2 linked regions of the Homo sapiens genome follow. Changing the gene in region 2 together with the main gene of any one other region gives a genetic interaction. Each region holds a gene or a part of one and is shown on either strand. Other genes may lie near its edges.

Region 1 (3,500 bases), on a different chromosome or scaffold from region 2:
CTGTTACTGTAAACACCTTGCAGAGGACATCCTGTGCCTCTGTGGGTGTTGTGCCTGGAGAAATTCCTGGGAAATGAATCACTGGGTTAAAGGTCATGTACATTTTGAGTGCTGGTAGTTTGTGCCAATGTTTATTTCTACCAACAGTGTGAGGAGTTTTCTTGCTGGTCTCAAATGTACTCCATTTACCTAGAGATTAAAAGGACTTAAGAAAAGGCCAAGGAAGCTGTTTGGAATGTCTTAGGAACACTAGGGTAGAGCTGTGGTTTAGCAATCATGGCATTGCAATCAAACCTGTTTTGGTTGTAAACCAGATGGTGTTTTCTTGTTGCTGTTGTTTTTCTTTAGCCTGAAGTCATTTTCTTCCTCCTGTGTTTATATAACTCCTTGAATCAAAGAGCTTTACTTTTTTTTTTTTTTTTTTTTTTTTTTTTTTTTTTTTGAGACAGAGTCTCGCTCTGTCGCCCAGGCTTGGAGAGCAGTGGTGTGATCTTGGCTCACTGCAACCTCTGCCTCCCAGGCTCAAGCGATTCTCATGCCTCAGCTTCCTGAGTAGCTGGGATTATAGGCATGCGCCACCATGCCTGGCTAATATTTTTATTTTTAGTAGAGATAGGGTTTCACCATGTTGGCCAGGCTGGTCTTGAACTCCTGACCTCAAGCGATCCACTTGCCTTGGCCTCCCAGAGTGCTGGCATTACAGGTTTGAGCCACTGTGCCCAGCCCAAGAGCTTTACTTTTAAACTCATTAAAATGGTGATGACAAGATAGAGGAAAGCATTGCTTCTGGCTGTGGTGTCCACTGAAATGTCCCTGAATAGTGATAGTACTACAGTATATTGCTCCTTTGTGTATACTGCACCACACAGTTTCAAAGTGCATTCCTGTTATTTATTCCTTGCACCTTTCCAAGAAAGGAAGGGGGGTGATGTTGTAAGGAGAGCCTACCGTATAGTCAGTCAATCTCCTACCAGTAACATGTTCTTAAAGCCTGATTCCTAATCACTGGATAATGGAGATTTTAAGTTGAGTCTTATAAATCTAGATGCATCTGTTAGTGTTAATACTTTCAAAATCTGTAACTAACCTGTTCTAATGGTTTTAACAGTTTCATTCAGATGTAATTTGCATACCGTACAGTTCGCTCATTAAAAATGTACAATTCAGTCTTTTTCAGTAAGTTTACAGGGTTGTGTAACCCTCATCACATTCTAATTTTTGAACAATTTTGACACCCCCCCACCCAAAAAATACTCCATACACATTATCAGTCCCCCGCCATTCTCCTTCCACTAATGTTCTTCTTAGCAACCACCAATCTACTTTCTGTCTCTGTCGATCTGCTCTCTTAGACATTTCATAAAGATGAATCATACTGCATGCGGCCTTTGTGTCTGGCTTCTTTCATGGAATGTAATGTTTTCAAGGTTCACCCATGTTGTAGCATGTATCAGAACTTCATTCCTTTCATGGCTGAATAATACTCCATTGTGTAGATGGCACATCTGATTATCCATTAATCCATTTTCATTAGTCCATTTTCACACTGCTGATAAAGACATGCCCAAGACTGGGTAATTTATAAAGAAAAAGAGGTGTAATAGACTCACAGTTCCATGTGGCTGGGGAGGCCTCACAATCATGGTGGAAGGCAAAAGGCATGTCTCATGTGGCGGTGACAAAAGAGAATAAGAACCAAGCGAGAGGGGTTTCCCCTTATAAAACTATCAGATCTTATTCACTACCACAAGAACAGTATGGGGGAAACCACCCGCATGATTCAGTTATCTCCCACCAAGTCCCTCCCAACACATGGGAATTATGGCAGCTGCAATTCAAGATGAGATTTGGGTGGGGACACAGCCAAACCATATCACCATTGGTGGACATTTGTGTTGTTTTCACTTTGTAGTTGTCATAAATTATGCTGCTGTGAACATTTATGTACAGATTTTTGTGGGTACATATGTTTTCAGTCCCCTTGGATATATAGCCAGGAGCGGAATTGCTGGGTTCTGGGGTAACTATGTTTAACCTTTTACAGAACTACCAGACTGAGTTCCAAAGTGGCTGCACCATTTTTACATTCTCACCAGGAATGTGTGAGGGTTCCAGTTTCTCCACATCCTCATCAACACTTATCTTCCTTTTTTTAGACTGTAGACATCCTAGTGGTTGTGAAGTGGTGTCTGCTTGGGGTTTTGATTCACATCTCTCTAACGACTGATAATGTTGAGCATCTTTTCATTTGCTCGTTGGCCATTTATCCTCTTCGGGGAGGTGTCTATTTAAATTCTTGGCCCATTTTAAAATTGGGTTGTCCTTTTATTATTGAGTTGTAAGAGTTCTTTATGTATTCTAGATATGAGTCCCTTATCAGAGATTTGATTTGCAAGTATTTTTTCCCTTTCTGTGGGTTGTCTTTTCACTTTCCTGATGGGATCATTTGCAGTACTCTAATGATTTTTTAAAACATTTTCCTCCAGAATTTAGTCGGCGTCTTAAGGAACGCATGCACCACAATATTCCTCACCGATTCAACGTAGGACTGAACATGCGAGCCACAAAGTGTGCTGTGTGTCTGGATACCGTGCACTTTGGACGCCAGGCATCCAAATGTCTCGGTAAGATCAGTAGTTGTGCATCTGTGCTGGGCACCTGTGCATCTCCAGCTTAAAAAGTCTATCAGGTGGAGGTGATTTTTTTCTAACTCATCATATAGTGCATTCATTTTCGAGCTTCTTACTTCAGTAGGAGGATGCTATTTTTCCCCTGTTGAAGCTGTGAGTTTATATATGTCTGCAGCTCATGACTCCAGCCTGCTGCTCAGAGTGCCTTAGGCTTTGCTAATTTCCAGCCCCTTTTTGTCAGGCTGGTCTCTCCCTACCTTTCCGCTGACTCCAACTGAAACATGCAAACGTGTTCTTTACACACCTGTTTGTGGGCGGTCTGGATTGAAGCCTGGAAAACTGGGTCAAGAGCACTTGGCACTTTTGTTTTCCCTTTCTGCAGGGGCCTGGCACCAGGGGAAGCTCAGGAGACTACCTGCAAGCCAGGGCCAGACTCTCTGGGCCCGGCTGGGGTAGAGAAGCCCAGGCGTTGGCTGGCAGAGGAAGGGAAGGGTCCAGGGTCAGCTGAGCATGCCCTCAGGTTGCTCACTGTTCTTCCCTAGAATGTCAGGTGATGTGTCACCCCAAGTGCTCCACGTGCTTGCCAGCCACCTGCGGCTTGCCTGCTGAATATGCCACACACTTCACCGAGGCCTTCTGCCGTGACAAAATGAACTCCCCAGGTCTCCAGACCAAGGAGCCCAGCAGCAGCTTGCACCTGGAAGGGTGGATGAAGGTGCCCAGGTACCATGTCAGGGTGGCTTGGGCTGGAGCAGGTGCTGGCACAAGCCACTCTGTCCCTGATGTTTTCTAGGGAAGTGTCTTTTCTAGGAACTCTGCCACCCCCTCATCCTATCCTCCAGCCGGATGTTTCTTCTGAGTTCAGACATT
Region 2 (3,500 bases):
TTACCACTCAAATTTTGGTAAACATTTTATAATTTATATATAAAATCTCAGTAAGAAACCATGTAAAATGACAGAAATATCCACCTTACATTAAGAGTCAAAATAAAAAAAAAAACCCATACACACTGAATGTAAATTTTAATTATAAAACAAGAATATGAACAAAACATTTTAAAATAATCTCAATTATTTGGCAACTCATCACATCATTGCAAGAGACAAATTTGATCGTAAGAAGTTTAATCTTATGAAAAACTGAAGTTGGACAGTTTGCTCATATGAGAGTTAAAACATGTTTAAAAAAACACTTGGCAATAAAGCCAGTTTCTATACTGAAATAACTGTGTATAAAACAACATAAAATCCTGAAACTGGATAGACAGGAGGGACCTAATCTTGAATGCATTTCTCTTCACTGAAAAAGACAATATGGAAAGAGTATTGGTAGAAGCTTCAGAACAGCACAGAAGAGGAATGAACACAGAGAAGAGGAATGAAGAGGGATTTCTGCTGCAGGTGACTGACGCAACTTTACCTGAACCAGAACCTGTTTTGTGTCAACGTGGCTGGTAGTAAAGTCACAGATGCAAGTATAATCTAAAAACAAGTTACATTCTTAAAAAACAGAGCCACAACTGTGAACAGAAAAGCAATGAAGAACCTTTCTTTAGCTAAACTACTTTACTTGGATACATGCGAGTTTCTGCCAGATCATATTAAGATAGTTACAGAGCAGGCAGAGTCCTAAAAAATTTTCTACTAATGACTGCATAGCATTTAAAACCCTTTTTATTTAAAAAAAAAATAAAGTAAAATAAACAGATATATAGTAAAGTTCACAGATAAGTTTTCTCTGTAAAATAAATAAAGTGTTCATTGATTAGCATCATACATAGAGTAAAATACAACCTATTTTTACATGTTTATATACTATACACAGATTACCAGTAGGCAGCCTGGCGTCTGATGGGCTGGAGGGGTTTGCATTCATGATGTGTCACATTGGGAAATCCCAATTTTGAATGTTAAAATATACAACTACTTTGTTTTGAGTTCAGATACAAAGTAAACTTATTGTCCTTTATCTGAAATAAATGTACATAATATCTTCTATGAACAATAGTTTATAAAGCTGTTTAAAACATAACAAGAAAAAGCTTGCACCTAGGGACTTACAGCACATGCATATCTTTTTCCTGGTTAAAGAGAAGCCTATGGCCACCAAGGCATGTCTCTTTCCTCTCCACCGTGTTCCTCCATAAGCCTAGGGCAGCAGTGGTCAGGATTATCGCTTCGCTTTTTTCACAGGGGCTTCCTCCACCCTTTGCTGGCCTCTTGTTCGGGCCCCAGGAGGGCTGACTTCTCTCTTGCGCTTGATAGAAGGGGAGAGCTGTGTCTTTGATCTGCATTAAGCAAAGTCAAGGCAATGGTGAGGTTTAAAAGCAGCTGCTTCAAATAACTTGGGAGTTCCTTAAAAAACAGAAGAGTTTTGAACTTGACAGCTAAGAAGAGAAAAACCCAGTAACATTTATACATGAAAAGGAGCTACCTCGCGAAGAGCTTGAACTAACTGGTTATTTGCTGTCAACCTCACACACAAACACAGGACACTGGAAGAGAAGTTTGAAGCCTGTGCTCTGGTTCCAGCTCTACCACACTCTAGGTGCTGATGGTGCTCAAATCCACTTCCTTCTCTGGGCCCTAGTTCTTTCATCTAGAAAACAAAGACATCAACAGCGGGTCCCACCAATATACAGACTGTCCCAAGTTCAAACAACTAGCAAGAACACAGCAGGACTGCAATCTAGGTTGGACCAAGTGCAAAATCATGTTTCGTAGCACAGTATTACAGAAAATACCTGTGTTAGAAAAGGCACGGGAATTTCAGAAGAACATTCTAACCAATCTCCCTATCACCAGCATACCCTGTTGATATAGTCTGTGATTAAAATTATTTGTTGGAAACTCCAATTAATCATGTTACTGTCCTAGAGATGTATGAAGTTCCTCTTGGGTCTCTGATGCTTTCAGGAGAAAATCATCCAGAGCCTTTTATAGTTCTGCCTTCTACTTGTGCACCATCTGGGCCTGTAGTCCTGCACCTTCCACATCACAAAGCAAGATGCCCCATCTTTGGAATCCCCCACAGAGAAATGTGACTTTATTGATATGAAGACTTTAGGTCTTTACCACAGCATTTACCATTGTGATTCATCTGCTGTGTTTTTTCAAACTGCAAGTTACAATCAATATTTTAAAACAACATGTTAATAGGACACAACAGAAAATACCACTCATATCACATCTATTAAATTTGACTCATGAAATTTTGTTTCAGTTACAGCAGCAGGAATGTGAGCACCAGCTGTATTGCAAAATATTCTTATAGTGGGTTGTTGCCAAAAAAGTTTGAAAGTCTTATACACATATATCTCCCCCATTAGACACGATGATTCTCTAGGGCAGCTGCTGAGATTTATTCATTTTTCTAACTCCAGTGCCTAGTGCAATGCCCAACACATGGCAAGCGGGCAGTAAATGTCCTGTCAATGAATCAAAGAGTTGGAAAACCAAAATTGCAGGAGATGGAGAAATGGGACTCTTAGTGATATGAAGACACGTCTTCCGTTTCTTGTTTGACAGCAAAAGTAAATAAACTGAGTCAAAAATTGTTGCAGATGATGTGGTTTTGACATGTGTTGACAATGACTGAAAATGTGTTTGTTGATAATCCATTTCAAACTGTTTCCATGGAAAGCCACCAGCCACTCAATGAACACCTCTTCAGTAAAGGTGCCGTGCGCAGTATTGTGCTGGGGGCCAAGTGGCAGCCAACAGAAGCTCTGAGTCAGGCTGCTTCTCCCCAGCCATGTGAGCTTCGTAGTTTATCCAGGCCCTTCTAGTCCACCCAGAATGTGGTCTGTGAGGAGGGGCATTGGTCACTGAGGAGCTTGTTGGAAATGCCAACTCTCAGGCCCCAGCCTAGACTTACAGACCCAGGATCTGCATTTTACCAACAGCCTCAAGTGATTTGACTGCATGTTCAATTTTGAGTAGTATGCATGGAAACCTTCCTGAGATTCTTTCCCTCACATATAAAATAAGAGTAACTATTACAATTCACTCACTGAGGGTTAAATGAGAGCATGTATGTGAAACTGCCTGGCACTATAGTTTGCTTTCGTTTCTAGAATGTGCGGAAAACAGCACATACATACAAGTATGCTGTGAAGATGAAAATGTGGTAAGAGGTCAAAACAGTTTTTGTGTACAGTGAAGAGTCTTTTATTTTTGAATATGATAATGTATAGAAAGTATGACAAATTCCTATCTCAAGAAAGAAACCTAGAGCTCAGAGGGGTAAATAAAAGGAATATACCAAACCAATGCTATGTGGCATCTCAAGTGCCCAGTACTGACCAGAAGTGCAGCAAGAAGAGATGAAAATGGGCTGAAGCGGGACGGAAAGGATCTGACTTACTAGGGGTGCTGGTGGTGAG

What was found.
Region 1: changes in BOD1L1 (region 2) and CIT together harm fitness less than expected from each alone (positive genetic interaction), as found in Homo sapiens cells (one large-scale study listed by BioGRID).

What each region holds. Positions count from the first base shown.
Region 1 is NC_000012.12:119,713,321-119,716,820, reverse strand, and holds part of CIT (citron Rho-interacting kinase), read left to right. Parts: intron 1-2,486; coding exon 2,487-2,624; intron 2,625-3,096; exon of another isoform or gene 3,097-3,172; coding exon 3,173-3,353; intron 3,354-3,500. UniProt on the Homo sapiens protein: Plays a role in cytokinesis. Required for KIF14 localization to the central spindle and midbody. Putative RHO/RAC effector that binds to the GTP-bound forms of RHO and RAC1. It probably binds p21 with a tighter specificity in vivo.
Region 2 is NC_000004.12:13,568,726-13,572,225, forward strand, and holds the end of BOD1L1 (biorientation of chromosomes in cell division protein 1-like 1), read right to left. Parts: intron 1,715-3,500; coding exon of another isoform or gene 1,711-1,714; exon of another isoform or gene 1,410-1,710; intron 1,404-1,409; coding exon 1,286-1,403; 3' UTR 13-1,285; downstream 1-12. UniProt on the Homo sapiens protein: Component of the fork protection machinery required to protect stalled/damaged replication forks from uncontrolled DNA2-dependent resection.